Regions from separate parts of the Homo sapiens genome. Here region 1 is linked to region 2. The links come from fine-mapping of genetic effects on plasma protein levels. A gene starts in region 2. The other region holds a variant in brackets. All regions are shown on one strand. Distances are between the middles of the regions.

Evidence for each region. A credible set is the group of variants that fine-mapping cannot tell apart. PIP is the posterior inclusion probability: the model's chance that the variant is causal. Protein levels are from the aptamer-based SomaScan assay of Sun 2018.
Region 1: its variant is the best candidate, but not a certain one, in a credible set for the plasma level of the SIRPG protein (Sun 2018, PIP 0.52).

The regions. Positions count from the first base shown.
Region 1 is chr20:1,630,752-1,639,090 of GRCh38, reverse strand. It overlaps SIRPG (signal regulatory protein gamma), which reads left to right. Exons shown (of 6, transcript NM_018556.4): 3 at 2,586-2,903; 4 at 3,492-3,824. SIRPG-AS1 (SIRPG antisense RNA 1) reads right to left here and starts at 5,583. Exons shown (of 3, transcript NR_110090.1): 1 at 5,371-5,583; 2 at 1,741-1,885. RefSeq lists an enhancer at 3,176-4,001. The variant A/G (reference allele first, on the strand shown) is at 4,076.
Region 2 is chr20:1,652,850-1,661,188 of GRCh38, reverse strand. It overlaps SIRPG (signal regulatory protein gamma), which reads left to right and starts at 3,410. Exons shown (of 6, transcript NM_018556.4): 1 at 3,410-3,547. The coding sequence starts at 3,475.

The sequences.
Region 1 (8,339 bases), 22 kb after region 2:
ATGCACATGTATGTTTATTGCAGCACTATTTACAATAGCAAAGACATGAAACCAACCCAAATGCCCATCAGTGATAGACTGGACAAAGAAAAGGTGGTACATATACACCATGGAATACTATGCAGCCATAAAAAAGAATGAGTTCATGTCCTTTGCGGGGCCATGGATGAAGCTGGAAGCCATTATCCTCAGCAAACTAACACAGGGACAGAAAAGCAAACACCACATGTTCTCACTCATAAGTGGGAGTTGCACAATGTGAACACATGGACGCAGGGAGGGGAACAACACACACCAGGGCCAGTCAAGGGGTGGGGGGGTGAGGGGAAGGAGAGCATTAGGACAAATAGCTAATGCATGCAGGGCTTAAAATCTAGATGATGGGTTGATAAGTGCAGCAAACCACCATGGCAAACATAACCTATAAAACAAACCTGCATATTCTGCACTTGTATCCCAGAACTTAAAGTAAAATAATAATAATAAAAAGATGTCACAGAGGACTCTGTTCCCTCCTCCTTCCAAAATGCTTCCAGCTTTACCTATGATCTTATTTTTTTTTGAAAGCCAGTTGTCCAGACTTGGTGGTTTTGCTTTTATTATCATTTGAGTTTTTCATGAGCTGCAGGGAGCAGGATTTGAGCCTTTTCTTGGTGTTTCTACTCCTCTATGTTCTGCTGCCTAAAGAATAAGTGTGTAGATTCAGAAGTAGTAATGACCAAACCTCTTGATAACAGCCATAGGGCTCATTTATTAAGCACCTGCTGCATACCAGGCTCCGTGCTTGCCTTCATCCTCCCTCACCTTACCAGGGTGGGTTTTTTATCCACTTTTGGCCCTTTGCTAGCTGGGGTCCCCTCAGACCCTGGTCCTATAAGGGACTCACACGAGGACCCCCTCAAGGCAATAAAGGGAGGATTAAAGAGCTGAGAGGTACAGAGGGAGCAGCCAGCATCAGGCTCCCAAGAAGCCCTCAATAAATGGCAACTGGTTACAGCCTCTCAGCCCTCTAGGGATGCCCAATGCTGCTGGTGTCTTGATGACTTGACTTCTTCAAGTGACACCCTTCTTACTGTGCCCATAAAATGTTTGCATGTGGTAGGGAGCAAGTTAATATTTACAAATGCAAGTATGCCTAATATGTGTTTCCTGATGACTGCTATAGGAGGTGCAGGGTAATAATTAGCAATTTGGAGACACGTTTAGGACTCATCTACAGGGAGAAACTACCCTCATTTTTCTGATTCTCCAGTTTGTGTGCTTTCAGGACCCAGGATAGATTTCTGCCTGTTGGGGTGGCCTAGATCTTTGTCTCTTGTAATGAATTAACGATGAAGAAATCACCCACCTTTGGCTTTCTTAGTACTCAGTGATCATTGTTTTTGGACCCAACCTGGCCCAACTGAAGACCTAGATTCCAAGAAACCTTCCCTCTTTTCAAATTTGGGACTTGGCACAGATTAGACCTGCTAACTAAAAAAAATAATGATTGATAGGAAGGCCAAAGGAAATAGCATTTATCTGGGAAATAAAGAGTTGCAATTTGGGAACCCTGAGTCATGGTAGTCCTGAACAGTGTCCCATAGGGCAATGCAGGAAAAGTTTTGTACTGGGGACTTTCACAAAATGTTGTTTTTGAAAACAGTTCATTGCCTGGCAGAAATGCTAAACTGCAAACTCGTATGAATTGGTTACTTAATTAGGACACTCCAGGATGAGAGAAATCAAAATCCCATGTACCTTGACTTCAGTCCATTGTTATCCAGGTCTACAGCAACATCCTGTGGCTTGACCTTTAGCAGGTGTGAGTGCAATGCTCTTACAAACGCTTGACTCCATGTTAAAGCTTTAGCCTTAACTACTTCATTTTCTTTCAAAAACTGTACTGGAATATTTGTGAAAAGAATGAAAAATATGGAATAAATTCATAAATACACAAAGAGAGAGAGCTCTAGGTATATGTCAAGTCTGGATTAAAGACAGATCTGTGTTTATTTTTATGAAGCATCTTCTGACTTTGATCCAAAGCAAAACTTCTTCCATGGCCCCATTTAATCCTTGTTGCACCCCTGGGAAGGGAAAATGCTGCTGTCCCACTTTGCAGATGAGGGGCTGCATGTTCCAGGCCACCCCTCTCATGGGCTGAGCAGCCTGGTTGCAGGTCTCATGGTGGCGCCACTTTGCCATTGTTCCCTACTTTGGCTTCTGTAAACACCCTCTCTGAGGTTGGTGAGCTCTCCTGGGGAAACAGGCTAGCACCAGTTAATACACAGAGGGAGAACAATCAGTAACTTTGTTCCTGTGCCCAGATTGGTGGAAGTCACCCTATGTGGAGAGGAGGACTTTGAACTCAGACCTGGACTTCCCTCTGGGACCTTTCCCTACACTGTCTGACCTGGGGCTGGTCGTCACCTCTTCCAACCTTTGCATCCTGCTCTGTAAAATGAGAATAAGAACACCATCCTCTCCACATTATTAGAAGGATTAAAATTAATGTATCTGAAGGTTCTTAACAGTGTCACACACTCATCGTTAGTGATTGTCATCTCAGTCATGTCTCCTGTTTATCGATGCCCCTTTTGTAGCCAAACCCTCTGCCCCCGTGGTATTGGGCCCTGCGGCGAGGACCACACCTGAGCATACAGTGAGTTTCACCTGTGAGTCCCATGGCTTCTCTCCCAGAGACATCACCCTGAAATGGTTCAAAAATGGGAATGAGCTCTCAGACTTCCAGACCAACGTGGACCCCACAGGACAGAGTGTGGCCTACAGCATCCGCAGCACAGCCAGGGTGGTACTGGACCCCTGGGACGTTCGCTCTCAGGTCATCTGCGAGGTGGCCCATGTCACCTTGCAGGGGGACCCTCTTCGTGGGACTGCCAACTTGTCTGAGGCCATCCGAGGTAGAGGACCCTCACACCCAGCCCAAGCCCACACCTGGCTGTCAAGCCCACTCCCCTCTCCCCAGGCTGTTGCTCCAGAGGTTGAATGGCCTGTAATCTAATCCCTGACTATACTGCCCGCCCGCCATGCACCTAGGTGTGCTGGTCACTTACTATCATTTTATTGGCAGCGGTCAGGGGACCAGCAATCACGTGCCAAGCTCTGCGCTAGAGAGTTTCATTTATCTCACCAAGAACAACTACTATTAGTGAGTACCTACTATGAGCCAAGTCCCTATGTGCTCGGCGATTTCACTGATTTTGCTACAGTTCTTACATTCCAACTGCATGCCAGGGGTTGTGCTTGTAGATTTCACTCATTCTTAGCCTAGTAGGAGCTACCAGTCCTTGAGCACCTACTGTGCACCAGGCACTGTGCTTGGTAATTTCATTCATATGCAAAGAGCGCCCTCAATGTCTTAGCATCTGCTGCCTGCCTAGCACTGTCCTGGTGATGCCCTCACCGTGGTAGTGGGAGTTAAGTTATGGAGCCCTCCCTGTGATCTGTCTGTGCCAGAAGATCAGAGCTTCTACCCTGTGCTGTTTCAGTTCCACCCACCTTGGAGGTTACTCAACAGCCCATGAGGGTGGGGAACCAGGTAAACGTCACCTGCCAGGTGAGGAAGTTCTACCCCCAGAGCCTACAGCTGACCTGGTCGGAGAATGGAAACGTGTGCCAGAGAGAAACAGCCTCGACCCTTACAGAGAACAAGGATGGTACCTACAACTGGACAAGCTGGTTCCTGGTGAACATATCTGACCAAAGGGATGATGTGGTCCTCACCTGCCAGGTGAAGCATGATGGGCAGCTGGCGGTCAGCAAACGCCTTGCCCTAGAGGTCACAGTCCACCAGAAGGACCAGAGCTCAGATGCTACCCCTGGTGAGGTTACTCAAAATTTTTAAATTTTGTCTTTTTCTCTCATTTTAAAAGTAATATCCACACTTGCTGTAAAATAAGCTAGAAGTCTATAAATACAAAGTAAAATTTTAATGTCAGCTCCATCCCCCCAAATCCCACATGCGAAGAGTCATGACTAGTAAGAATTTGATGCACAAGTTAATAGAACTTTTGACATAAATATATGTTTAATTTTTTTTTTTTTTGAGACGGAGTCTGGCTCTGTCGCCCAG[A/G]CTGGAGTGCAGTGGCGCGATCTCTGCTCACCGCAAGCTCCGCCTCCCGGGTTCACGCCATTCTCCTGTCTCAGCCTCCCGAGTAGCTGGGACTACAGGCGCCCGCCACCACGCCCGACTAATTTTTTGTATTTTTAGTAGAGATGGGGTTTCACCGTGTTAGCCAGGATGGTCTCGATCTCCTGACCTCGTGATCCGCCCGCCTCAGCCTCCCAAAGTGCTGGGATTACAGGCGTGAGCCACCGCGCCTGGCGTACATAAATATATATTTAAGGAGCAAAGAGGCAGGCAGGGGGAACCATCTTCTCATAGAGTCCTTTGCCTTCCCTTATTCCTTGAGAGTTGTTGTGCCCGTTTCTCATCAGCCCACCCTTGTGCTCCCTACTTTTTCTAACCTCTGCTTTGTTTCTGTTTCATCCAAACTTTTCCATCCTCATTTATGACCTCATCCCAGTACACCCTGACATCTGCTGTGTATGTTTCAGAAAGACAAATGTAGTTTAAAACTGTACCAGGCCTGGCGGCTCACGCCTGTAATCCCAGCACTTTGGGAGGCCGAGGCGGGCGGATCACGAGGTCAGGAGATCGAGACCATCCTGGTTAACACGGTGAAACCCCATCTCTACTAAAAATACAAAAAAATGAGCCGGGCGTGGTGGCGGGCGCCTGTAGTCCCAGCTACTCGGGAGGCTGAGGCAGGAGAATGGTGTGAACCCAGGAGGCGGAGCTTGCAGTGAGCCGAGATCATGCCACTGCACTCCAGCCTGGGCGACAGAGCGAGACTCTGTCAAAAAAAAAAAAAAAAACTGTACCAGGCCTGCAGGTGACCATGAATGGTCACAGAACGGACCTCTTCTGTGTCCTGATTGTGATATTTGAGCAACAATAATCACAAACCCCTCTGCAAATTTACTAAGTGCAAATTTCCATTCATCCATGATCTCTGTTTTTGCTTCAACCACCCAGTAAGTCTGGAGTTTTAAAGAAGGGGAAACTAGGACTTGGGAAGTCATGGGGGATGTTGTTGAAGACCTCTTGCCTTTAGATCGGGTTATTGGTTCAAACTAATTAAAGTAAATCTGGGTCCCTGAGGACAAGGTCAGTATCAGCCTAAAATGCAAATTTGTGCTAGTTAGAGAAACAGTCCTCTTCTGCTGGGCATTGTCCCATGGACCTGAAGTTGGCCTGTGTTCCACTCCGTATGACCAAAATATGTCTTACTTCCCTCTTGTGTAATACCAGGAGGAGTCTCAACTCCAGGAGACTTTTCAAAGGCCCAGGTTCCTCCCACATACCTTATGGTGGTTAGTCTTATCTGCTGGGTCAGTGCTAGGTCACGGATTTTTCCATGTCCCTGTCTGCTGGAAGAGTAAATATAGGAAATGGAGGGCAAAAAATATCTTCTATAATCAGAGATGTATGGAAGGCGTGTGATCATGTCCACAGCTAACTCAGTCATGCATGTACACGCAGTTCCAAATGGAATCCATAGTTGGGTGATCTTATGACTAAAGACAGCATAACAAAACCAGTATCATTATTACAGTTAATACAATTTCAAATTTTTAATCACTAAATTTCATAAAATTATTAAAACAATTCCCTTATATCATCTAAAATGGAGTATACATTCAAATTTTCCTCAAATTTCTTTTATGACTATCTTTCTGTGCACTAAATTTGGTTTTAATTCATATTTAAATGCTTTGCAGTATTTTTCTTTGAAACACTTGGGCCTCAAGAATTTTTGGGGGTGTTTTAAAAGTATAAATTCAATTTCCTCAGTAGTTTAGGGTTACTCATATTATTCATTTCATATTGGGTGAGTTCCGGTAACTCGTGCCTTTTGAAGAATTTTGTGTCCATTTTATCTAAGTTGTCATATTTTTGTGTGTAGAGTTGTTCATAATATCTCCTTATTATCTTTTTGGTGTCTGAAGGGTTATGGCGATATCCCCTGTTTCAACCTCATATCTAAAATATGCCATTTCTGTTTTCTTCTTCATCAGCCTTGCTATAGTTTTTTTCCATTTTATTGGTCTTTTCAAAGGACCACTTTGTTTCCGTGAGTTTTTAAATTGTTTTTGTGTTTCCAGTTTATTCATTTTTTGCACTCTTCTTTTTATTAATTCCTGTCTCCTGCTTGCTTTGAGTTTATTTTGCTCTACTTTTTCTAGTTTCTTGAAGTGGTGATTTAATTGACTTGAGGCTTTTGCTCTTTTCTATGTCATTCCTTTGCCTCCGTTTATGGCTGGGGCTGGTGTTGGGGGATGGGTCCCAGGTGCCTGGCTGCAGGGCTGTCCCTCAGTCCTGAGGCCCCTAGTCAGTCTCCCTTCTTCCTCTCCCACCTTGGAATTTCTCCTATTCCTGATCCTTGTGATGTTTCTAGGGTTCATAGTTTTACTTCTCAGGGAGGTAAAACTGCACCATCAAGACTGGATTGCATTTGCTTTTCAGTTATTCATCCACCCACTGGCTTGGACCAGGACCAGGGCTGGCATTTTTGGGTGCTTTCGGTTTGCCAGATGTAGCATCTTTGCTCAGGTACTAAGGCTGGAAATGCATTTTAAGTTGTCTAGGCTGGCAGGTAAAATGCAAGATGCCTTGTGGTTACATAAGTGCTGCACCAGTGGCGTGGGAGCCGGGTAAGAGACTGTGCACTAGGGTTAGGTGAGTGTTCTGTTTTGACTCACGGTCATTTTGCAGTTTGGCTTTCTCTCTTCAAGTAATACTGAGAGCCAGGGTTGTGCAGAACTTACTTTGTTTTCATTTTTTATTTGATTTGGGGAGGATATTTTATACAGATAAGTAGCTATGCTGCTGCAATTGTACCCAGCAACTCTTAAGTCAACCGAAGATCTTTGAGTGCTTTGACCCAAATGTCCACTCCCACATCTCAGGGTCCCACAACTTCCCCATCAGGGCCCTACCCCAGCATAGCAACCGTTGAAGCTGAGATTCATCCTCCTCTGTGATTCTGCTACTCTTTTAATGATGTCCAGGGCCCAACCCTCTATTCTTTCTGCCCTCTAGCCACAAGAGATAAGAAAGTGCAGTGCTGCCAAGAAGTCCTCTTGCTTTCACGCTGAACCTTAACTCATAATCAATCACTCGTAGCTTCTCAGCATATTTCCCCAAAAAAAATATGCCCAGTGATAGCCATGGAACAAGTTAGTCCTTATAACTACCATTTCCCAATTTGTTTCAAAAGCCTGATGCCAAGGAATTTCCTGCCTGTGGTTACGCCATCCCAGCTTACTGCCAGTGAAAGTTTTATCAATTGCATCCCAGCCATGGTGCCCAGCCCCACTCACTGCCAGCCCTGAGGTCCTCATTGCGAGCTGATGAGTATTCAGGCTTCAAATTTATATTTTAGAGTAAGCTTTACAGACAACTTACCAAGGTCAGTTTCTCTGTAAGGCAGACTAGAGATGGATACAGGAATGCAGGAAGCATCCTGAAGAGCTGTAGGGTCAGCATGCCTCAGGAAATGGGGAGGCAGGACTGTAGGAGGAGCGAGGTGCTGAGCTACAGTGCAGGTAGAACAAAGACCCAGCTGCTCCTGCGGAGGATCCCAAGGGCTGAGAGCGTCATGTAGTGTTTTTTAATTGAGGAGAGAAGCGTGGCCTTCCTATTTTCAATTCAGCCAATCTTTCTTGTGGGCTGTCCCCTAGAAGGAGGAGTGAACTTGGAATTGGGCAGTGCAGCTTTCCTCAAGGGAGAAGAAGTCCCAGAGAGCCACCCAGCTGAGAACTGCCGGCCTCCAACACCCCAGCAGCCACAGATGCTGAGTTCTCCATTTCTTCCTTAAGGACCCACCAGCACCATTTTATTTATTTAAAATATACTGTAATATCTTTAATGGCCCAAACTGCTCGCGTTAAAAATGTTGATTTTAAAAGCCTGAACTGCTCATGTTAAAAATGCAGCGTCCAAACATGTGCTTCCCCGTAACTGAGTGTGCCCAACTAACAGAAAGATTTCAGATGACACCTGCACTGGGGTGGAGGTGGCCTAGGTGACATCTGAGGCCCTCCCAAGCATGAGACCCATTTCCGTGACTCACCAGGATGTTTTCTAGCCGGAAGGTTTCATTATGTCCAGTGTTCCATGGCTCCTCCAAGTTCTGAGAACACGGAGTCCTCCCCTTACTTCTGGGGCTAAGCAGGGAACCTGCAACTCTCATTGTGAAGCCATCCTCAAGCCACCTGCCTACCCTTTTATAGTCATTAAAATGTCCCTAGGAATTTGGACTTGTTTTGTT
Region 2 (8,339 bases):
TAAATTCTTGAGGGCAGAGGATCTGTTTTTTAAAATTGTTGCTATTACCAAAACACTACCTAATAACGATAATATCTAACTACTATCTATAATGATAATGGTAATACTGAATATATAACTTTTGGAGGACATGGTCAGATAGTATTAAGTAATTTGCATATATTAGTTCATTTAATTCTCATCACAAACTTATGAAGATGGTATGATTATTCTCTCCGTTGTACACTTGGGGAAACTCAGGAAACAGGGAAGTTAATAGTGACCCCAGGATCACACAGCTGGGACCCATTAGAGCTGGATTTCAGACCAGGAAGTTTTGATTCTTAAGCCCACAGTCTTACATCTTTAGTCTTCTGGAGCATCCACTGGCTCCCAGTTTCTCATGTGTCCCAAAGTCGTCCCTGGTTATCTGCACCTGCTGTGATGAGTCAGGGTGAAATATGGCAGATAAAGGAGAATTTTGGCTCATGGACTCCCAGGTTCCTGGTCCTCTCAAACATTCAGATTTTATCTATGCTTCCCCAAGTCACCTAAATTTAAATTTCAATTCTCCACGTGATTTCCACAAAAATTGTAAGCATCTGTGTACTTAGTTGATCTTTACTGAAGGATTGAAGTTCACAGGAAGGCACTTGCTGCTCTAAGCACAGATTCTGCCATCTTCCTGACACTATACTATGCATTTTTGAGTCATATACGCCCAATTCTTATTTTTGGAGACATAATACTTTATGACTCACACCTCTCAAAGTAATGTAGTAATGTGGATAGGTAAAAATAGAGCAATAGGAAAAGATATACCACAATATTGTGGTATATTTTTACCTATCCACATTACTTTGTTTGGGTGTGTCTCTGTGCTGTACCACAGGAAATTTCCCCTACATAATCACCCAGCTTACTAACTTACTATTATACTTATTTATGTATAGTCAGCTAGTCAACCTATTAAGTTTTTTTAAAAAATTTCAGCACTGATTATGTTTTCATTTCCAAAGTCTGTGTTTTGGTATTTTTTCAAGATGGTTGTTGTTACCTCATGCCCGCCTATTTCTGTTTCATATTATTACATGCCTGATGTTGGTTTATGAATTTACTTCTCTTTTGTTTTCCTTATAAGATCATTAAGTATACTAACTTTAAAGAACTTTACACATTTTGTTTTTTCATATTTGCTCAGGTGTGAAGTTCTTTTGATTGCTATTTGTTTTTGAGTTATTGTTTTTCTTGAATTTGTTAGCTGCAGTGCTGTTCCTCAAATCTTTGGTGATTCTTGCTTGCACTTCCGTCTTCCCAGGAATAATTCCCCATGTGATCATGGGTTGTCAGGGCCTCGTGGAGCATGGCACCTGCCCCAGCCTCACTATGAGGGCTGCTCCTAATTGAGGCTATAGCTTCTTCTCTGCTTTCTTCCTGAGGGATGTCTCTCCCTTCCTGCAAGAGGTATCATAGTACAACCATTAAAAGTGAAGGCTGTGGAGTGTGGCAGCCTATGTTCCAGTTCTAAAAGCCGGGTGATCTTGAGCAAATTCATTACTCTCCATGTGCCTCGGGTTTTCTCACCTGTGAAAGGAGGTTAATGGTTGAGCTTACCTCATGGGGTCAGAGCAATGATTTAATGACATTACCAATAGAAAAATGCTTGGCACCATATCTGGAGCACAGGAAACTCTCAATAAATGATAGCTGTTATAATTCCTTCATGTCATATAGAAGCCAATTGCTTGTATTCAAGTGTAATTAGACATTGATTCATATATTCTTTTCATTTTGTGTTTTCACTACTGTGGGTGTGGAGAAGGAGGGGAAGATTTCACCCTGTGTACATCTGCCACATTAAAACAGGACTTTCAATTAAAACATGATAACATTTACAATTTGATTTGACAATTATTCATGACAGATTAAGAACCTAAAACCCACATGTGAGATGAAGGATTCTGGACAGGTCTTTCTTAGTCATAGATGCTGGAAGAGAAATCATTTCTTTTAACAAGGTGGCTTTTCTAAGGCACAACGGTGGCAGAGAACCAGTGGACTCTTCCTGTACACAGAAAATAATTATAGCCATGTTTTTTTGCTTATAATTAATTATGAGTCAAGCATTCAGTATGGCTTATATTATTCCTACCATAGCTCTACAAGGTGCATATTCTAACATTTATTTACATACAATCAAACCAAGGCTCAGAGAAGTAGTGTCTTTTTGAAAATCACACAGCTGGAAATTGTAAGAGGAGGAATTAATCTATGGTTGAACAAGGAGCGGGATTTAGAGAATCCAGAGGGAGAAACTGATTTCAGGGTGGCAGCGAGAGTCCAAATACACTATATAAGCTGGGTCTCAGGAGGCCTGGGTTGCTGGGAGAAAGCCACTGGTGGGCAACTCAGCATGCAGGAGGGATCCATTCAAAAGCAACATTTGAGTTCCCGCACTTCACCTGGCACCGTGAGTATCAATAATGACCTACTGGGTTTCAGGCATGATATGCTCATTACCTCTTTAATCGTCACTAAAACACTGCACAAAAAGACTTACTATTCCCAGTTTAGGAGATTGAAACTGAGCATAGGAGGGCCCAGCGACTTCCCCAACTCCTTGGCACACACTCTTGGCAGGAGCATGGATTTTTCCTCTTTCCTCATTTCCCATCCGAACTCAGTGATGAATGAAATAGGTGCTCTGTGTGTAGAAGAAAGGGTATTGAAATTGATGCGACGGCCCCAGGAACCTGCCCACCATAATCTTCCCTCATGATAACCCTATCCCCTTTCCATAACCCACAATCCCCACCTCACTCCACAAAGCAGTTGCTTATTACCTCAAACCCAGTTTCTCTCCTGGAAGGAGTCAAGAAATAATTCCTTCTGCTGGGTGCAGGCACATGAAAGTGCTAAGGTCCACAAGAGACTGAATTTGGGCTAAGTGTTGCCAATTATAGCAATTTGGAATAGAAAATCATTTCAGGAGAAGATCTGGTTCCTCTCCAGTGTTGAGCAGGTCCTGTGAACTCTTCTCCTACGTCCAGCGGAGTGGCATTTGGTTGAGGCTGGTGCAGAACAAGACCACAAGCCAACCACATCCTAGGGTCTTGAAATAAAGACTTTAGAAAACAATACCTAACAACAGATCTTTCTTGACTTAAAAGCCTCAAATGGCAAATCACCAAGAAGACCTGAAAATGGGTTTGGGGACACGAGGAGGGAGCACAGGTCCCAGGCAGGCAGGAAGCATTATTTCTGCTAACCCTGTCTGATTATCCTGAAAATGGAGCACGATTAACTCCTTGCTTTGTAGCTGCCTACTGTGCCTGATTTGTAAGTCACAATCTAGAAGCAGGTTACTGTTGCATTCCATCATAGCCACTTCCTCTTGAATTGAGGGAGGCAGGGCTTGTCTTCTGTCTTCAGAGCAGGGCCTGACATCTCCCCAGAACAGACGTTTGAACAGAGCAGGCTTCTGAGGTCTCCAAAATGCCTGTCCCAGCCTCCTGGCCCCATCCTCCTGGTCCTTTCCTGCTTCTGACTCTACTGCTGGGACTTACAGGTGAGCATTGCATTGGGCTAGAACCCTTTCTCCCTGCTTCCTGGACCTAGCCTTGCCCCTGGACTTGCAGCAATTTCAGATAAGCACAAGCACTGCCAAGGAAGGTCAAGGACTGGACATTGTCCAAGAGCAGAAGATCAGGGAGCTGAGCACTTTCTCTGTGGATCTGCAGCTGGCTACCAGAGGCATCAAACCTTGTGAGGCTTCTGCCACCATCACAATTAGTTACATTTTTATAATATTTTATTTGACAAACACAGAAGAATCATTATTAAATCCTTACCTGTCTTGAGTCCTCCTACCCATTTTTGTGTGCCCTCCTCCTCTTTAAGAAGTTCCACATTTCATGCTTACAGCGTCCTATATTCCTTTCTTAGGGCTTCCACAACAAAGCACCACAGACTCAGTAACTAAAACAATAGACATTTACTTTCTTTCTTTCAGTTCTGGAGGCTGAATTGCAAAATCAAGATGCCAGCAGGGTTAGTTTCTACTGAGGTCTTTCTCCTTGGCTTGTAGAAGGCCATCTCCTCCATGTGTCTTGACACATGGTCTTCCTCTGTGTGTGTCTGTATTCTCATTTTCTCTTATGAGAACATCAGCCATATTGGATTAAGGCTCCCCGCCAGTGACCTCATTTAACTAAATTGCTTCACCCATTTATGCCTAGTGCTCCGTTATTGGATCACTAAGCTTGCGGGAGTTATTTATATCCTACTGCTCAAGGGCATCGCCAAGGTCTGATTTTTCAAATTAAAAAAAAATTGCAACCTCGGGCATAAATGGGTTAAAGACCTTGTCTCCAAATATGGTCAAATTCTAAGGCGCTGGGGATTGGGGCTTCAACCCATTCGTTTTGGGGGCACATTCAGCCCATAACAGGCACCACCATCTCCCTTGGTCATCTTGACTTTCCTCTGGAGAATTTATTTTCCCTTCCCCCAGGCAGACAGGATTGGGAGGTCTTTCCTGGTGCCACCTGAGAGAGCCCTGTTCACAGCTCCCAGACAGGCTGCCTGTCTTCACCCCTTTTTCAGACCATGCAGCTGACCCCCGGTCACAGGGCTGGGCACAATAGCCTCTCAGTTGCCCACTGGGCCCTGCTGTGATGTCATCTCACAGGTCTTAGAGGGCAAGGTCTCACTTTTCAAATTATTTTTTTTACACATACACTGTACCCAAATGACAGCAGTAATAGTTCAGCAATTGCTCTCTTCCTGTAAGGCAGATGCACTTCTTAGCATTTTGTGTGTATTAAGTCAACTAATCCTCACAGCATCCCTGTGTGGAAGCTATAACTCTTGTGCTCTATTTGCAAATGGGGAGTGAGGCAGAGGCAGGAACCTGTTCATTGTCCCCTACTTCAGTCCATGGAGCAGTTGGGATCAAGTCCAGGTTGACCAGTTCCAGAGTTTATCACCCTTTTAACCATGTTATGCTATGTGTAGAAATATTAGAAAATGCAGGCAAGCAAACATTAGATTAATAATCACCCATCACACCAGTCAGAAACAATCAGAGGTAAAACACTAGTGTATGTATGTTTTCCCAAAATGTTAAAAATGTGTTGGATGGTTTCTATGTGCCAAATATTTTACTGAGATTTTTAAATTTGTCATAATTGTAATTAATGCACAAAACAACCTTATATACTAACATGATAAGCCAAACTTTTATATATATTTGTGAATGTGTATATATACACATTATATACACATATATATGCACATGTGCCTATGCATGTACATGTACATGCACAGATGAGATTTCATTTTTAATCATTGGTTCTCTTTCTATTTTCAGTGAAATTTTTAACAAAATAAATATTTTATTTTATTTTTATTTGACAAAAGTATGTATACTTATGTACAACATATTAAGAAATATGCATACATTGTGGAATGACTAATTTGAACTAATAAACATATGCATTACCTTACATATTTATCATTTTTTATTGTGAGAACTCGTAAACTCTGCTCTCTCAGCAGTTTTCAAGAATACAATTCATATTATTAAGTATAAACACCACATTGTACAATAGATATCTTGAACTTATTTCTCTTATTTAAATTGAAATTTTGTATCCTTTGACTAATATCTCCCCAACTACACCCCCTCTCTAGCCCCCGATAAACACCATTCTACTTTCTACTTCTATGAGCTCAACTTTTTAGATTCTTCATACGTGAAATCATACAGTGTTTGTCTTTCCGTGCCTGGCTTATTTCACTTAGCAGAATGTCCTCCAGGTTCATCCATGTTGTTGCAAATGACAGGGTTTCCCTTTTTGTAAGGCTGATTAGAATTTCATTGTGCATATATGCTACATTTTCTTTCTCCATTTATCTGCTGATAGACACCTAGGTTGATTCCATATCTTGGCTTTTGTAAATAATGCTGCAATGGACATGGGAGTGCAGATATATGTGTGACATGCTGATGTCATTTCCTTTGGATATATGCCAGTAGTGAGATTACCAGATCAGATAAGAGTTATATTTTTAATTTCTTGAGGAACCTGCATACTGTTTTCACTAATGGCTCTACTAATTTATATTCCCACCAACTGTCTGCAAGGGTTCCCTTTTCTCCACATCTTCTCCAATACTAAATTTCCTCTTTTTGATAATAGCCATTCTTAAAGGTGTGAGATGATAGCCCACTGCGGTTTTAATTTGCATTTATCTCATGAATAGTAAGGTTGGATTTTTTTTTATACGCTGACTTGCCATCTTAATGTCTTCTTCTGAGAAATGTCTATTCGGATCTTTGGCCCATATTTTAATAGGGTTGTTTTCTTATGGTTGAGTTGTTTGACTTCCTTATATATTTTGTATACTGACTCCTTATCAGATGTATGGTTTGCAAATGTTTTCTTCCATTCTATAGGTTGTCTCTTCACTCTGTTGATTGTTTCCTTGGCTGGGTAGAAGCTTTTTTAGTTTGTTGTTAATGCCTTTTGTCTATTTTTGCTTTTGTTGCCTGTGCTTTGGGGCTCAAATCCAAAAATGTATTGCCAAGACCAATGTCATGAAACTTTTCTTCTAGTTCTTGTACAGTTTCAGATCTTACATTTAAATCTTTAATCCATTTTGAGTTGATTTTTGTATGAGGCATGAGAAGAAGGCCTAATTTCATTCCCCTACACATGGATATCCAACTTTCCCAGCACCACTTTTTGAAGAGACAGACCTTTCACCATTGTGTTTTCTTCACACTTTTGTCAATAGTCAATTGAGTGTGAATGTGTGAGTTTATTGCTGGGCTCTCTGCTCTGATCCATTGGTCTATATATCTCTTTTTATGCCAGTGCCATGCCATTTTGATTACTTTGACACTGTAGTCAATGTTGAAATTAGGCAGTGTGGTGCTTCCATCTTTGTTCTTTTTTTTTTTTTTTTTAGATGCAGTCTTGCTCTGTCGCCAGTCTGGAGTGCAGTGGTGTGATCTCAGCTCACTGCAATCTCCACCTCCCGGGTTCAAGTGATTCCCCTGCCTCAGCCTCCCAAGTAGCTGGGACTACAGGTGTGCACCACCATGCCTGGCTAATTTTTTGTATTTTCAGTAGAGACAAGGTTTTACCATGTTGGCCAAGACGGTCTCGATTGCCTAACCTCGTGATCTGCTCGCTTCGGCCTCCCAAAGTGCTGGGATTACAGGCATGAGCCACCATGCCCGGCCCCATCTTTGTTCTTTTTGCTCAAGATTGCCTTGATGTAGCATATCACATTTGGAGATTTATGAATGTTATACCATCCTTGCATTCCTGAGATAAATCTCATGTGACCATGCTGAAACACACACAGAATTTTAAAGACTTTCTTTACTGTAAACTTCAACTCATTTTTTCAGTCTATATGAAATGCACATTGAAGAGATGTGTGGTTTTCCCTATTGCCCAGCCACTCTCCCTCCTTCCTACTTCTCTAATCTTACCACTGAAAGTCCTCCAATCTGTTAATAGAAGCAACAGATAAGCAAACTTCTCTCTTGGTAAAATGCATTTTCCCTCAAAGCAGAATTTCTGTGCATTTTTATCCTGAAATTCCCTCTTCCATGAAGGTAGAAATGAGGAAAAAAATGTGGGGATACAGGTGACACAGGTCTGCCTATATTACCTATAACTATAGTTATATTTATATCCATATCCATACCCTTATCCTTATCCTTGTCATCTAATGTCCACTGAAGCCTCCAAGCCTCAGAAATCTACTGAGCAATAACTTTACAATTTTTGAACGTTCACCATGTGGCAGACACTGTTGAAAATGCCTTACCTCTTTTACTTCATGTGATCATTATATACAAGGTAGATATTCTTGTCACCTTTCCTAACAGATAAGAAAACAGAAGCACAAAGTGCTCCAGGCTCACTCATTGGTAACTGGTAGAGCTACGATTTGAACTCAGGCACTCTGACTCTAGAGGTCACAGGTTTCACCATTACTCAAACACTTCCGGTCTTGATTCTATTCCATGAGATTTCTGCAGCTGCTGCTCTTGGGTGTGGAGTGGGCAATGTGGTGTGAAGGGAGATTGTGGTTTTCTTCTCTGGGCTCTTCTACTTTCTGTATGTTTGCAAACTGATTTTTTTTCACTAAGTCCTCTACATGGGAAACTCATTTTCTGTCAAATTCCACAGGAGCAAACCACCTAAAATAGAAGATTTCAGTCTTCGAGGGAAATGTCCCACTGAGCAATTCAAACATTACACACATATCTATTGGATACCTACTATGTGCCAGGATCTGACATAAAAACATGGGGTACTTTGGTAGAATAAAAGAGA